Homo sapiens: one gene and its partner. The protein of the gene in region 1 interacts with the protein of each later gene in a pairwise test. Each region holds a gene or a part of one and is shown on either strand. Other genes may lie near its edges. The genes, in order: SMCHD1 and PEG10.

Region 1 (3,829 bases):
TGCTGGGATTAGAGGCGTGAGCCACCAGGCCTGGCCAATGTCCCACTTGTTAAATCATGTAATTATGCATCCTGTAGTTACTGAAAAACTATGTGCAAATGATTTTTTTAAGATCTATGTTCACCTAAACATATCTAATTATTCCATATAATCCCACATAAGTCTATTATTTTTTCTTTCTTTCTTTCTTTCTTTCTTTATTTATTTATTTATTTATTTTATTTTTTTTTTTTTGAGACGGAGTCTCGCTCTGTCGCCCAGGCCGGACTGCGGACTGCAGTGGCGCAATCTCGGCTCACTGCAAGCTCCGCTTCCCGGGTTCACGCCATTCTCCTGCCTCAGCCTCCCGAGTAGCTGGGACTACAGGCGCCTGCCACCGCGCCCGGCTAATTTTTTGTATTTTTTTAGTAGAGACGGGGGTTTCACCTTGTTAGCCAGGATGGTCTCGATCTCCTGACCTCATGATCCACCCGCCTCGGCCTCCCAAAGTGCTGGGATTACAGGCGTGAGCCACCGCGCCCGGCCTTTCTTTATTTTTTACAGATTTTTTTGAGTACTCTTCTACGATAACTGCATATAATAGTTCATTTAGCCTTCACTAACTACATAGAAGACTCCCCCTATTTCCTAGCTGTCAAATTATCTACGGATAGGAATGCTAGCACCTTATTCTCTTCTTCAAACAATGGCAACCGGGTTATCGCTCCTGACCATCTAATTGTATCCAGTATTGCCTGTATTTTCCTGCACTGGAGCAAATAGTTCATTTTCTTTTGATTTTTAACCCATATTAAAAACCCACAGATGTTTAATCCATATTAAAAACCCAGATGTTTAATCCATATTAAAAACCCACAGATGTTTAATCCATATTAAAAACCCACAGATGTTTTTTAATCCATATTAAAAACCCACAGATTTCTAATCCATATTAAAAACCCACAGATTTCTAATCCATATTAAAAACCCACAGATTTCTAATCCATATTAAAAACCCATAGATTTTTAATCTATAAATCTACTATTATTCAATTAAGACACACAAACTATCTTTTTTTTTTTTTAAGTTCCTGGATACATGTGCAGAACATGCAGGTTTGTTACATAGATATACATGTGCCATGGTGGTTTGCCACACCTATCAACCTGTCATCTAGGATTTAAGCCCCACATGCATTAGGTATTTGTCCTAATTCTCTCCCTCTCCTTGCCTCTTACCCTACAACAGGTCCCTGTGTGTGATGTTCCCCGCCCTATGTTCATGTGTTCTCATTGTTCAACTCCCACTTATGAGTGAGAACATGCAGTGTTTGGTTTTCTGTTCCTGTGTTAGTTTGCTGAGAATGATGGCTTCCAGCTTCATCCACGTCCCTGCAAAGGACATGATCTCATTCTTTTTTATGGCTGCATAGTATTCCATGGTGTATATGTGCCACATTATCTTTATCCAGTTGATCATCAATAGGCATTTGTGTTGGTCCCACGTCTTTACTATTGTAAATAGTGCTGCAATAAACTTTAAAATTAATCCATATTAAAAATCCATGGTTTTTAATCCACATCAAAAATCCATATGAAATATCCATGGATTTTTCATCCATATTAAATATCCATGGATTTTCCAGGGGGCATGGTGGCGCATGCCTGTAATCCCAGCACTTTTGGAGGCCGAGGTGGGTAGATCGATCACCTGAGGTCAGGAGTTCCAGACCACCCTGGCCAACATGGTAAAATCCCATCTCTACTAAAAATACAAAAATTAGCCGGGCATGACGGCTGGTGCCTGTAATCCCAGCTATTTGGAAGGCTGAAGCAGGAGAATCGCTGGAACTTGGGAGGCGGAGGTTGCAGTGAGCCAAGATTGCGCCACTGCACTCCAGCCTGGGTGACAAGAGTGAAACTCCCATCAAAAAAAAAAAAAAAAAAACCATGGATTTTTAATCTATAAATTTATTATTATTTAATTAAGACACATAAACTATCTTTTTGTTTTCCCTGCTTCATCTATAAAAATTATTTCTTGAATTCACAATTTTTCTAAGTATTTTATTTTATTATTGTTTGTTTGTTTTTTGAGACAAGAGTCTCGCTCTGCCACCCAGGCTAGAGTGCAGCGGTGCGTTCTCAGCTCGCTGCAACTTCCGACTCCCGGGTTCAAGTAATTCTCCCTGCCTCAGCCTCTCGAGTAGCTGGGATTACAGGCACCCGCCACCAGATCCAGCTAATATTTGTATTTTTAGTAGAGACGGGGTTTCACCATGTTGGCCAAGCTGATCTCTAACTCCTGACCTCAGGTGATCCGCCCGCCTTGGCCTCCCGAAGTGTTGGGATTACAGGTGTAAGCCACTATGCCGTCCCCAACTTCTCTTAAATATTTAAGGACTAACTGACTTGCAGTGCATAAAATGATTACCTACCAAAATGATCAGTTAATTTTATTTTTAAAATTATTTTTTCACTATCTCTGAACAACAGGTAATTTTCATCCATGGATTAGTCAGAAAGCACACAGCTTAATTAGCACTGCTCTGAAACTCTGCAAACTAGTCAGCTTTTAATGTGGCTCCATTATATTTCGTTACCTTACTATGGCACTTGCTAAGCCATAGTTTTCTGCTTTTTTTTTTTTTTTTTTTCAAAATCTCAAGTTTATTGTAGAAATTGATGAGCACATCTTATATTAAAATACAAAACACCTAGAATAGCCGCACAACAAAAAACATTGGAGCCACACAAAGGAAAATGTAGACAATTTCTTCAAATTGGTGGTGGGGGGATATGCACACATGGGACTTAACATCTGGGCATATTTTAGAACTAACCAAATGAGTCATCTTCTAATCGTTGATTCTGCAAGGCCACAAGGGCTCAGGTGAGTCAACAGCTGCTTATCAGAGGTCTAAGGGCTTCTTGCAGATTTGTCCTTTCCATTTCTTCCCTCTCCTTTTCCATGAGGTGAACTTTATTCAAATAACAATTTAGAGCTGGGCGTGGTGGCTCATGCCTGTATTCCCAGCACTTTGGGAGGCCAAGGCAGGTGGACCACCTGAGGTCAGGAGTTCAAGATCAGCCTGGCCAACATGGCAAAACCCCATCTCTACTAAAAGTATTAAAATTAGCCAGGCGTGGTGGCAGGCACCTGTAATCCCAGCTACTCAAGAGGCCGAGGCAGGAGAATCACTTGAACCTGGGTGGCAGAGGTTGCAGTAAGCCAAGATGGCACCACTGCACTCCAGCCCGGGCAACAGAGCGAGACTCCGTCTCAAAAAAAATAAATAAATAAGTAACAGTTTAGGATCACCCATAATACTGCCTGACACTACAAACATTTATTGGTTTAATTTACATTTTAACAAAAACTTTAGTATATTATTTTGTCTCTTCCCCTAAGGACAAAAGTGATGGTTCTAATAAATAGTGTGGAGTAGTGTAAAAAATATATATATGTGTGTGTATATATATGTGTATATATGTGTATATATGTATATATGCGTATACACGTATATATGTGTATATATGTGTGTATGTGTGTATATATATGTATATATACATATACATATATATACACACACACATATATATGTATATGTATACATAAGCTTTGGAATCAAATTGACCTAAATTCCAATCCCAGTTTCACTGCTTGTTGACCATGTAATCTCAGATTATTAATTCACTGACTTAATTCAGTTCTTCGAGTACGTAATGGAGACAAAGTTATGGGATCCGAGGCACAATCTAATAATGCTTAAAAGAAGTCTAACAACAAAAAAGTTAGCCTTCTCAGCCTTCTTTTTTCTTACTAGTTGGTCCCTCTCATTTCTAACTA
Region 2 (4,155 bases), on another chromosome or scaffold:
AAACGCAGGAAATGCTGATTTCTTTATGGAGGGGGAGACGAGGAGGAGGAGGACATGACTTTTCTTGCGGTTTCGGTACCCTCTTTTTAAATCACTGGAGGACTGAGGCCTTATTAAGGAAGCCAAAATTATCGGTGCAGTGTGGAAAGGCTTCCGTGATCCTCTCGCTGCACCCTTAGAAACTTCACCGTCTTCAAACTCCATTTCCATGGTTCTGTTAATTCTCAAGGAGCAGCAACTCGACTGGTTCTCCCAGGAGCAGGAAAAACCCTTGTGACATGAAACATCTCAGGCCTGAAAAGAAAGTGCTCTCTCAGATGGACTCTTGCATGTTAAGACTATGTCTTCACATCATGGTGCAAATCACATGTACCCAATGACTCCGGCTTTGACACAACACCTTACCATCATCATGCCATGATGGCTTCCACAAAGCATTAAACCTGGTAACCAGAGATTACTGGTGGCTCCAGCGTTGTTAGATGTTCATGAAATGTGACCACCTCTCAATCACCTTTGAGGGCTAAAGAGTAGCACATCAAAAGGACTCCAAAATCCCATACCCAACTCTTAAGAGATTTGTCCTGGTACTTCAGAAAGAATTTTCATGAGTGTTCTTAATTGGCTGGAAAAGCACCAGCTGACGTTTTGGAAGAATCTATCCATGTGTCTGCCTCCATATGCATCTGGGCATTTCATCTTCAGTCCCCTCATTAGACTGTAGCATTAGGATGTGTGGAGAGAGGAGAAATGATTTAGCACCCAGATTCACACTCCTATGCCTGGAAGGGGGACATCTTTGAAGAAGAGGAATTAGGGCTGTGGACACTGTCTTGAGGATGTGGACTTCCTTAGTGAGCTCCACATTACTTGATGGTAACCACTTCAAAAGGATCAGAATCCACGTAATGAAAAAGGTCCCTCTAGAGGATGGAGCTGATGTGAAGCTGCCAATGGATGAAAAGCCTCAGAAAGCAACTCAAAGGACTCAAAGCAACGGACAACACAAGAGTTGTCTTCAGCCCAGTGACACCTCTGATGTCCCCTGGAAGCTTTGTGCTAACCTGGGACTGCCTGACTTCCTTTAGCCTGGTCCCTTGCTACTACCTTGAACTGTTTTATCTAACCTCTCTTTTTCTGTTTAATTCTTTGCTACTGCCATTGACCCTGCTGCAGGATTTGTGTCATTTTCCTGCCTGGTTGCTGAGACTCCATTTTGCTGCCACACACAGAGATGTAAGAGGCAGGCTTTAATTGCCAAAGCACAGTTTGAGCAGTAGAAAACAACATGGTGTATATCTCAAATTGCCTGACATGAAGAGGAGTCTAACGGTGAAGTTTCACTTTTCATCAGCATCATCTTTCACATGTTCATTATCATCTGCTCTTATTCTTGCATGTTTAAACACTTAAAATTTTTAGTATAATTTTTAGTGTGTTTTGAAGTGGTGACTAGGCTTTCAAAAACTTCCATTGAATTACAAAGCACTATCCAGTTCTTATTGTTAAACTAAGTAAAAATGATAAGTAACATAGTGTAAAATATTCCTTTACTGTGAACTTCTTACAATGCTGTGAATGAGAGGCTCCTCAGAACTGGAGCATTTGTATAATAATTCATCCTGTTCATCTTCAATTTTAACATCATATATAATTTCAATTCTATCAATTGGGCCTTTAAAAATCATATAAAAGGATATAAAATTTGAAAAGAGAAACCTAATTGGCTATTTAATCCAAAACAACTTTTTTTTTCCTTCAATGGAATCAGAAAGCTTGTCAATCACTCATGTGTTTTAGAGTAATTACTTTTAAAATGGTGCATTTGTGCTTCTGAACTATTTTGAAGAGTCACTTCTGTTTACCTCAAGTATCAATTCATCCTCCATACATTTGAATTCAAGTTGTTTTTTTGTCAAATTTACAGTTGTCAATTGATCTTCAAGCTGCAGGGTGCCTAGAAATGGGCCGTTGTCTGTAGCCCTGGCATGTGCACACGGACATTTGCCACCACTGCAAGCAAAAGTCTGGAGAAGTTCACCAACGACAAGAACGATTAGGGAAAATATGCTGCTGTGGGTTAACAACTCAGAAAGTCCCTGATCCACATTTGGCTGTTTACTAAAGCTTGTGATTAACTTTTTGGCAGTGTGTACTATGCTCTATTGCTATATATGCTATCTATAAATGTAGATGTTAAGGATAAGTAATTCTAAATTTATTATTCTATAGTTTTGAAGTTTGGTTAAGTTTCCTTTCACTCAATTGATTTATTTTGTTGTTAATCAAATTTATGTTAATTGGATCCTTTAAATTTTTTTTGGCATTTTCCAACAAAAATGGCTTTATTCATAAGAAAGGAAAAAAATCAATGGAATTTGATATCTAAAGAAGTTAGAAAGGGAGCAAAATAAAAAACATAAAGGAGATAGATGAATTAGTAAGCAAATCAGTAGTCGAGTTTTTCAAACTGGCAAAATTAATTAATTGACTTTTAGCCCAAATTTACATTGTTAATTAAATCAAGAAGGAAGAAGATCTAAGAGCTCCCATTGATAGGCAAGCCTAGAGAGAACTAGCTAAATTTATCATGCTAGGATATTGAAACACAGAAAGTTTACATACATTTATGAAGGGTCAATTTAGTTTGGACAGTGAGGTATTTGTCTTAGTGGAAAAAAGGAGAATTAGTCTGATCAAATCGTGAAGTAATACAGTGAACTTGCAGGTGCACAAAATAAGAGGGCCACATCTATATGGTGCAGTCTGGAATTCTGTTTAAGTTTGTAGGTACCTCTTGGACTTCTGAATTGATCCAGTTGTCATCCACCACAGACATCTCACATCAGATACAGACAGTTCCAAGATTGACAACAGAGAACAACCTGCTGGAAAGACCTGGGCAGAAATGGAGAGCCCTGCGGGAACCATGCTACATTTTCATCTAAAGAGAGAATGCACATCTGATGAGACTGAAAGTTCTTTGTTGTTTTAGATTGTAGAATGGTATTGAATTGGTCTGTGGAAAATTGCATTGCTTTTATTTCTTTGTGTAATCAAGTTTAAGTAATAGGGGATATATAATCATAAGCATTTTAGGGTGGGAGGGACTATTAAGTAATTTTAAGTGGGTGGGGTTATTTAGAATGTTAGAATAATATTATGTATTAGATATCGCTATAAGTGGACATGCGTACTTACTTGTAACCCTTTACCCTATAATTGCTATCCTTAAAGATTTCAAATAAACTCGGAGGGAACTGCAGGGAGACCAACTTATTTAGAGCGAATTGGACATGGATAAAAACCCCAGTGGGAGAAAGTTCAAAGGTGATTAGATTAATAATTTAATAGAGGATGAGTGACCTCTGATAAATTACTGCTAGAATGAACTTGTCAATGATGGATGGTAAATTTTCATGGAAGTTATAAAAGTGATAAATAAAAACCCTTGCTTTTACCCCTGTCAGTAGCCCTCCTCCTACCACTGAACCCCATTGCCCCTACCCCTCCTTCTAACTTTATTGCTGTATTCTCTTCACTCTATATTTCTCTCTATTTGCTAATATTGCATTGCTGTTACAATAAAAATTCAATAAAGATTTAGTGGTTAAGTGCAAACTGTGTCCTGATCATTTCAGCATCTACCAGCATCAAGGGAATGGGGTGGGGTAGGGTGGGGAAGGCTGAGAGAGTAGGGAGAGTGGGAGAGGCTAGAGTAGGGTGGGGCTGTGGGGAGGGTGGGATTGTTGGAAGGGTAGGGAGGTAGGAGGGTGGGTAGGGTAGGGGTGGAATTGAGTTTGGGATAGTGGGGTGGTGGTATAAAGAACATTATTGATTACAACCTAGTATGAATTATATAGCCAGAATACTCCAGGAAATCAGTTATTCCAGCTGCAAAAGTTTAACATATAAAATAAAGATACACAATTAATAGCAACTCTGGTTGCTATTATCACAAACTTTAACATCAGTTTTACTTTAAATACTTGAGATTCATTAATATAAAATTATGAAGTATTAGGACATAGAAGAAGAGTTTCAAAGGGCTGCTAGGTTCATATGACATGACAGTCACATAAATATGACTGTTTATTGGGAAGATAGTGACTAAAAGGAAAAATCTAGAACTAATGAAAACACACAACTAAAAAC

The links.
Region 2: the proteins of SMCHD1 (region 1) and PEG10 interact in a two-hybrid assay, tested with the Homo sapiens proteins (one large-scale study listed by BioGRID).

Annotation. Positions count from the first base shown.
Region 1 is NC_000018.10:2,658,571-2,662,399, reverse strand, and holds part of SMCHD1 (structural maintenance of chromosomes flexible hinge domain-containing protein 1), read right to left. Parts: intron 1-3,829. UniProt on the Homo sapiens protein: Non-canonical member of the structural maintenance of chromosomes (SMC) protein family that plays a key role in epigenetic silencing by regulating chromatin architecture.
Region 2 is NC_000007.14:94,666,075-94,670,229, forward strand, and holds the end of PEG10 (retrotransposon-derived protein PEG10), read left to right. Parts: 3' UTR 1-3,621; downstream 3,622-4,155.